Regions from separate parts of the Homo sapiens genome. Here region 1 is linked to region 2. The links come from fine-mapping of genetic effects on gene expression. A gene starts in region 2. The other region holds a variant in brackets. All regions are shown on one strand. Distances are between the middles of the regions.

Region 1 (4,399 bases), 51 kb before region 2:
TTTTCAATTCTGTTTGAGTGTCTAGTGTTTGCTCAGATTTCCTCCTTTGTATCTCTGTATATTTATGTGGAGAGGCAACTCTGGGCCCGCTAAGAAGAGCACTGGACTGAGAATCAGAAGAATCCAGCACCATCCCTATCTAACAGTGTGATCCTGAGCAAGTCATCTCACTCTTTAATACCTCAGGTTTCTGGTTTAGGAGATGTTACCAGCAGTGTTAACCTTAGGCTAAGGTCCTTTCTCTCCGGGCATCTGCATTCCCATATATAATAGAGGTCATCTGATCTCACCTGAAATCTGAGGATCCTGGCAGCTTGACACTCTGACCAACAGCACTGATCTCCAAAGTGATCCTGCACTCCTATCAGAAAAAGCTGTGGAAGATATGTTCCTAAAATATGTATATTTATTCACTTATAAATTATATATATACATGTTCATAAAACTTATATAAAAATGAACATTCAAAAATTAGATAAAAATAAGTATACAATAACTTTTAATATCTTCATGTGAACACAAACTAAAATGTCACCAGATAATATGCACTTAGTGTGAAGCTTGTCATTAAAGACAGTGGCTTTAAATCCTTATTTCAAATGGCCCACTAGATAATTGTGAATATTTTTGGCTGCCTTCTTATCCCATATGATTAGACTGTCATTGGAGTCATGTTTTTAAATGTCAATATCACAATTTGGCTGCCAAAAATCTACCCTGGGAGTTAGAAGTATTAAACTCTGCCATTTTCTTGTTGCTTACGTTTGCTTACATTATTAGGGTCATCTTCAACTTCTGGTTTCTCAAGAGGAATCTTTTCAAGCCTCTTATCCATTTTGTTGAGACTAGTTTCGTTAAAATTGGATAATACAATCCAGGCACACATAAAATGCCCCACCATCAACCGTTTGTTGCTTGGAACTTGCCCTCCTCCAGAAGGATAGTTCACCTGATCACCTGACATTCACACGGACAGAGGGTGCCAGTGACAGTCTGTTTATTAAATATTAGTAATGTTTGGTTTCTTATTATTTTAGATAAACAATAAATAGGAAACAGCCGTATTCCAGTGGATTGTTTTATCTACCCTAGGGTGCATGCAGTTCCCTTTGGAGACTGCTAAACTAGTTGCATTAGAAAAACCAAAACCTAATTTGAGTCTACGTACACTGCTGTTGAACCCAAAAACCTAACTCTAGAGGTGAGATCATATTTTAAACACCAATTAAATGGCTCCTCAATTGTTAGAGAGCAGAAGGACCTTTAGGACAATTCAGTTAAGAAATATTTTAGTACAGCAAAGAGGTCAGATGTATTTTTTGTTGTTGTTTTGTTTCATTTCTCTTTGAAATGAAATGAGAGAGAGAGAGAGAGGTGGGGATTGGAGAGAGAAGCAAAGCGAGAGGGGAGATTAAAGATGATGCCTTGGACAAGCCAGAGCTATAAGTGACCAAGCCTGGAGCCTGTTGCCTAGGTCACTGATTTCATTCCACAGTCAGCCTCCTCAATAGCTCTTGAGAAGCTGGGACCTAAAGTGGGCTGCAGGCTATGCCTTCCTGGAGCTGAAGGCTGCTGGGGGAAGTGCCTCCACAGCTCCAGGGCAGGCAGGGCTCCTCCCAGCTGAGGGCAGGTGACCCACAGACACTGTTTGGTGCCCTGTGTTAAA[C/T]ATGTGATGTGAGAACTCACCCAGTGCACTTCCTGTGGTGAGGCAAGAAAACCAGTCGTCAGCAGAATTGGGTTTTATTTTTAAACACAAGCAAAGCCGGTGGGGGGTCGGGGGGTGGGTGTGCAGGGAGGAACAGAGGGGGTAAGATAGCATTTCGGTGGCTTGGAAAAGCAATTTATAGGGTCTGCTTGACTTTGTGTATTTCAGGTAGCTGCATTAGTAAAATATTTCTGACTGATGAGCAAATGCTGAAGCCAAGATTTAGAGTCTCTGTGGGTGAGGGGAAGGTATTTTCCATGTTATTTAAGAGTATGAACTCCTATTCATAAACAGTGGCTGTGAACCTTCTCTGTGGAATATCTTACTGTGGGTGGCTAGGTTGGAATACGTTAACAAAGGAAGGAGGGTGCCTGATTGCTGTTATTCAAGTACCTGATGTTCAGCTAGCACTAGAAGTTGAAGCAGTGGGGGCGTGTGTTTGCGTGTGAGTGGTTCACTAAGAGCTAATATGGAAGTGTTAATAGGAAAGCCATCCCTAACGGACACTGTGCCCCCATGATTTAACCTTTAAAAATGTGCTCTCATAGTTCCTGGAGATTGCTTCTTTAAAATGCATTTTAATTACATAAAATAAAGGGGAAAAGACAGCAGATTGAATAGCAGAAAAATCCATTTGAGTTTATAGGTCAGATCACGTTGTAACAAATACAATTACGACTCATACCTCAGAAACAGTAAACGCCTGAGAATCCAGATTTGTCTGGGAATGGGGTACTTTCATTAACTGAATAGCTTGGTTATTAGGGAGTTACTATAGAAACTCCAAACCAGTGGTTTCCCCACTCTGATGTGAATAAGAATGACCTTGTGAACCTGCAAAAAATGCAGATCTCTACTCCCTAGCCCAAGAGATTCTGATTCAGTTGGTCTGCATGGGCCCTGGCAATCTGAATTTTCTTTTCATAAACTAACCTTTGATTGAAAAAGTAATAAATGTTGAATCCACCTGAGGGGAAAGAATCCGTGGGGGGTGGGGGGAGTCTAATTCAGGTGGACTAGCAACCACCTGGAGAATTAACACACAGTAAAATATGCTTAGCAATAAAACCAGAAGGATCATAATGTGTCATCTGGAGATTCTGCACTGTCAAAGTGGTCACTTTAAATATAAATTACTAATGTATAGAACTGTGAAAAAGTTTCAGCTTATTTAGAACTCTGCTGTTTTAGACTCTGATTAAATGTGTTAACAATCCATGAGAATTTAAATTTTCAAAACAGACAAATTAGGGAGAAGTTATTAGATTAAAAGAAGACTTACCATACAAATCATTTAAATATTGTGATCTCAGGTACTTAAAATATAACTCAATTTGCATAATTCTAAGTCACGTGAAGCTTTTTGGGAGCATCTTTATTTTGCCAAATGAGATATCTTTGTACAGTGAGGTGCATTATCATGGCATGTTAGCTACTCTACCTGAGCTAGCATGTGGTATCATCGTTCTAAGAGACATACGCACACATGCCTCTGTAAAGATGTGCTAGTCTGTACAGTCTGAACTGTAAAGTTTTAAAAAAACTAAAACCAGGCTGGGCACGGTGGCACATGCTTGTAATCACAGCACTTAGGGAGGCTGAGGTGGGAGGATAGCTTGAGGCCAGGAGTTCAAGTCCAGCCTGGGCAACGTGGTGAGACGCCATCTCTACAAAAAGTATATATATAAAAAATTAGCCAAGTATGGTGGTGCACGCCTCTGGTCCCAGCTACTCGACAGGATGAGGTAAGAGGATCTCTTGAGCTCAGGAGGTTAAGGCTGCAGTGAACCATGATCACTCACCCCACTGGGCTCCAGCCTGGGCCACAAAGCAAGACTGTCTCAAATAAATAAATAAATAAAATTTAAAAACTAAAAACGGCCAGGTGCGGTGGCTCACACTTGTAATCCCAGCATTTTGAGAGGCTGAAGCAGGCGGATCACTTGAGCCCAGGAGTTTGAGACCAGCCTAGACAACATGACAAAGCCCCATCTCTACAAAAAAAAAAAAAAAAAAAAATTAGCCTGGCCCTGTGGCATGAGCCTGTAGTCCCAGTTACGTGGGAGGCTAAGGTGGAAGGATCGCTTGAGCCTAGGAGATGGAAGTTGCAGTGAGCTGAGATCGCGCCACTTCACTCCAGCCTGGGTGACAGATCGAGGTCCTGTCTCAAAAAAACAAAACAAAACAAAACAGAAACAAAAACCGAACACCAACAAACAAAGACAAACTGGATTAAGAATTTTACTGTCCTCAAATATTCAAGGCATTTTATTTCAGGAGGGTTCAGATGAGCTTTCTACTCTGAAGGCCTAAAAACCCAAGAGCTTCATTTGTTGCCTGAAGCTGAAAGAGACAGGGGAGGGTGATTGCTGCTTCCCGGTACACCTCCTCTTACCTTAGATGCAGGAAAAAGAGGCCTCTAAATGTGTTTCCCAAGCAACCCACAAGATGGAGTTGGTCCCCTGGATAGTGAGACAAGCCTTTCATTCTTGCACCCTCTCCTCAGCTGCTATATTGATACTATTAGGGCGCATACTAGCCTGAGTCTTCTTTCAGGAAAGAGAGCAAGAATTTCTGCCCCCTTTCCCAGGGAGTGGGTAGGAGAGTCAGTTAATTGAAAATCATTTCAGAGTTACTGTGGGATATTAGGAGATGGGGACAACAGGGATCATTCAAAACAATCAAGATCCCAGA
Region 2 (4,399 bases):
AGGGGATGGGAGAGGATTAGAGAGAAAAAACAAAAGTACTTATTTAGAATTTAAGCAGTAGCATCATTAAATAGTTTATTCAAGTTTTAACCAAAGTTCAGCATAATTTTTTGGCTTTTACAGAAATTGTTCATACAGGTTGGCTTTTGGAACAAGTGTCCAATTTCATGGCTTGCTCCTGAGTTGAGCAAGTTTTACATTGTTACAGAGATTTGAACAGTAATCTCCATAGTCACCTTTTTTTGAATATTAGATACATGCACCTCCACTAAGTGATTTTTAAAGATTAGAATTAATTTTCTTAGTCCCAATTTTGGGTTTTCTCTCCAAGAAGAGGTAAGAGTTGACTTTTAACTGTCAAAATTAAGGAAAATCATCATGAACACACAGAAGTTATTTCGCCTGTAAATGATTGAAATGTCAGAAAAGCTCAGCGCGTGCAATACTGTGTCTGAAATACATACTCTTAATTTTAACTAATCTTTAAGAATATATGCAGAATCTACACCCTGGAGCCAATGACATTTATAAACACTGACAATTATTACCTCCCAACGTCCCATTATTTTTCTGTTATTTAAATTGGGGTGCCTCATCTTGATAAACTATTAAACATCTTTCTTACCCTTTCCTCTTTCTTCATCCCCTTGTCCCTTCCCCTCATCTCTCCATCTTTACAATTTCCAGAGGTGGAATGTTAAACAGTGCCAAGTGAAGTCAACAGACACTATCATGAAAAAATATGACAAAGGAAAAGGAAAGTTTACCATTTCTAAATGCCCACTTCCAAGAAAACACGAAACATTTTATTTTTGTTGGTAAAGAATCATATGCATTGGTATGAGAATTTTTTCCACACCAAATGAGTTAGTGAAAATGAAAACATTAACTTATTGGAATAGACTACTCTAGAAAAAGGGGATGATGTCAGTAGAATGCATTGTTGTGTAGCACTAGCAAAACATCATTTTTTGCACTTTGCAGAAGATATTTCCAGTAACAAAGAGGCCAGAGTTTAAAAAAACCCATATATTAAAAATATATAATATCCATACATATTATATATGGATATATTTTAATATATGGATATTATATATTAACAATTAGTTGACAAGTACTTTTAGTGAAGAAATATTTTTATTAATATTCTCTCCCTTTGAAGTTACCAAAAGGGTGTCGATGTCACAATGCTTAAGTTATATACAGGTGGAGGGCAGTTCTGTCTCAAATACCTTCTAAATTTTTCAAAATGATACCTTAAGAACAAACAGCAGGCAAAAAGTCTAAAAATCAAGATTTAAAACATTATTAGAAGGTGTTGCATGTTAACAGTACCAAGGAATTCCAGGTTACCATAAAGGCATTCATCATCAGAAAGGGTGACCTTTGGACAGTTTGCCAAAAACCAGGGCTTCCGAAATACGGGCATTTCGACAGAAGTCGATATTAAGTGGAAAGACAGGTTTTCTGAAAACGGCACGCAATTTTTGTCATTTGCTCCCGGGTTCTTCCAATATGGGAATGCGTCAAATGTACGTGTCCAGGTGACACTGGGACTCGGTTTCGTTTCGTTTATGTGTCCCCCTCCTCCCACTCAGGGTGGCCCCAGAGACAGCACAAGTCGGTCTGAACCCACTCCGAAGATATGCGATTCGACTGTGGAAAAGCCATTCCACATCACTGTGAAACCCTTGACCGAGGGCCAGTTCGGAGGAGCTGGTGACGGTGGAAAGAGATAAAAGCCATCCGCGAGGGAGTGAAACAAACCGACACGCGGCTCCCTGCGGCAGCTGAACCTCATCTCCCTTCCTCCACCTCCCTCTTCCCCATATGGACCCTGCCAGCTGCAACCGAGGTTTTTAACCCCAATTCACGTGCAAAGCAAGCTTCTTGCAAATACAGACGGAGGTACAAACAGCAGAGTGAGGGCGGGAGGAATATGGGGTACCAGGGAAAGTAGAAGGTGGCGAACGGCAGGGTGGGGTGTTGGGGGGGGGATGAAGCGAAGCAGGCGGCATTGTTGTGCCCCGGGAAGGGGACGGAAGGGGAGGATGGGCCTGGCAGAAAAGCTCTAAATCAAAGTAGGGGCTAGGGGAGTAAAAGAGGCACAAAAAAGCAGCGAGAGGGGCGAGGGAAAAGCCAAGTGGGTCTCTGTGATGGATTCCCCAAGCCCCGGGGCCTACCCAGGGCACCGGCAGCCCCTCGGCCCCTAACGGCGAAGGGGACCGCGCCGCGGCCCTCGCGGCTCGTCCCCTCCTTCGCTCCCCGGCCCACACAAAGAAAGAGCCGGAGGAGCTGAGCCTCCGACTCTGCCGCTTCCTGGTTCAAGTGAGGCGAATGCAAACGCAGGCGCGGCCCAGGGACGGAGAAGGCAAGCGCGCTCCTTCGCCCCCTCCCTGATTGGGGCCGGGTCCTCACCTGCTTCCCGGCGCCGCCGCTTCTCCTCCTCCGGACGCGCGGAAGGCTGGGAGTCCCCCAACAAGAAGAAGCCGCACTCCCCAGCGATTCTGCCCCTTCTTTAAACGTCGCTCCAGTCTGGGTCGACGTCGACGCGGCCGCCGCCTCCTGCCGCCAACGCTGCTACAGCTGCCCCACGCCGCCGACAGAGGGCACAGCGCGGGGGCGAAGCGCTGAAGCCAAAGGCGCCCTCCTCTTCCGAGCGCAGGCCGGGGTGGTCCGGAAGGGCCCGAGCTTGAGGCGGCTCCACTTCGGCGCCGTGCTCTGCCTTCGGTTCTTTCCGCAAGGGGGCGGAGGAAGACTGGGAAGCTCTTGTGTGTTCGGCTCTTTCCGGAGGGCTAACGGGTGGGAAAAAAGGAAAGGGAAAGATCGGGTAAGACAGTCGCAAGCAATTGGATGGAAGGGAAGCGAGTCGTTTTCATCGAAATTCAATGTGAACTTCTAGGGCATACAAACTTTTAGAGACTATACAGGTTTCATTTATTTTGCAAGTTTGAATCTGCTCTATTAGACTGTTTGCTAGATGATAAACCATCTTGAAATATAATCAAAATACATACAATCAAATAGAAATTCACAACTTCTTATGGTAATTCAAGTTCTGGGATAACAAGAGAGCAACTACATTACAGTAACTACTTTTAAGAAAGAAATTTAGTGTTTGGACAACTATCTTCTTAATTGAATACTAAATGGTGCAGTACTATGTTAATTCCCTCATTCCAACTAGCATTTACTGACCCCCTGCTTGATCTGTAGCAAAAACCCTATGTTAGGCTCTCGGGAATACAAAAATGAATAACCCAAAGGTCTCTACCTCTTTAGGGAGCTCAGTAGGTAGGTACACAAACATGGACAAAAATATTTGTACAAGGTGTAGAAGCAGAGAGAAGAGAATAGCAAATTGAATGCTGTCATTTGACCTGTATCTTGAAAGATTAATAATATTAACACTTGCATTTTTAATTTTTTATTGTTACTATTTTAATTTTTTATTATTACTATTTCCATAACATTTCATCTTCAGAGGGCTTTAGTGTCTGACACATAGTATGTGTTCAGTGATTGTTTAATGACCGAAAAAATACATTGTGAGTTACATAATTTTTTAAAATCCTCTGGTAATACCCTTCCAACTGAGTACCATAATAAATGAAGCAACAGGATGGGTGTTTGGAGAGCAAAATGTTTCCCTTTTAGGCTGGTTATTGATCGTATTCAACTAAGGAACCAAATAGTAACTTTTTTTCTGCCATAATTAAGGCCATTCACTACCTTCATTATCTTTTTAAAAAGATATATATAGGATAATACTGCATTCATTTCCAAAATCTTAAATTTGTACCTATTAATACCTTGCAGTGGAATTCCTGTGCTTCTTTCCTAAAAAATCTTGCTGAAAATGTCCATCAGGATATTAGACTGAAAACAGATGTAACTATATCTAATTTTCTCTGACAGGAAATCAGACATGGATGTCATCATCTCATCTACCTATCCCTAATCTATTCTTCATCCTCCTCAATAAAGTAAAGCCACATGGTATAATAAAACATCAAAGTGGTATAATATAGCTGTATTTCACATGGAAATATGCAATTCCTTAAGCTCTTCTCCAAGATTTTGTATTGTGGGAAAACAAACTATGTGGGAATTATTGCATTATTGATTTTTGATTAGGACTTAGCATTATGAAAAGTTTCATTGTTTACTATAAAGATATTTCATGGCAAATAGAAGTATGCTGTTGTAAAATAAACTAAGGCAGATTAGTATTTTTCCTGGCAACTGAGTACTTAATAACCATTTTTCTGAGTTATCCTCCCCAAAACTTAGTAGTAAAAAAAAAAATCTTAGTAATTAGAACAAAGTATATCTTGAAAGTTTAGGATCTATTTATCTTTCAGTGGCTTAATTGATGAAAACTAAAATGAGACATATC

Evidence for each region. PIP is the estimated chance that this variant, and not a neighbour inherited with it, causes the effect.
Region 1: its variant is fine-mapped to the expression of ZBTB33 in whole blood (TOPMed, PIP above 0.99). The same link has a PIP of 0.9 or more in T cells and blood mononuclear cells.

Annotation. Positions count from the first base shown.
Region 1 is chrX:120,299,880-120,304,278 of GRCh38, reverse strand. The region is part of intron 2 of TMEM255A (transmembrane protein 255A); the gene reads left to right. Among named protein-coding and RNA genes, the nearest start is that of TMEM255A, 9.4 kb to the left of the region's middle. The variant C/T (reference allele first, on the strand shown) is at 1,667.
Region 2 is chrX:120,248,997-120,253,395 of GRCh38, reverse strand. It overlaps ZBTB33 (zinc finger and BTB domain containing 33), which reads right to left and starts at 2,584. Exons shown (of 3, transcript NM_001184742.2): 1 at 2,419-2,584; 2 at 626-727. It also overlaps a transcript of TMEM255A not described here. RefSeq lists an enhancer at 2,039-2,877.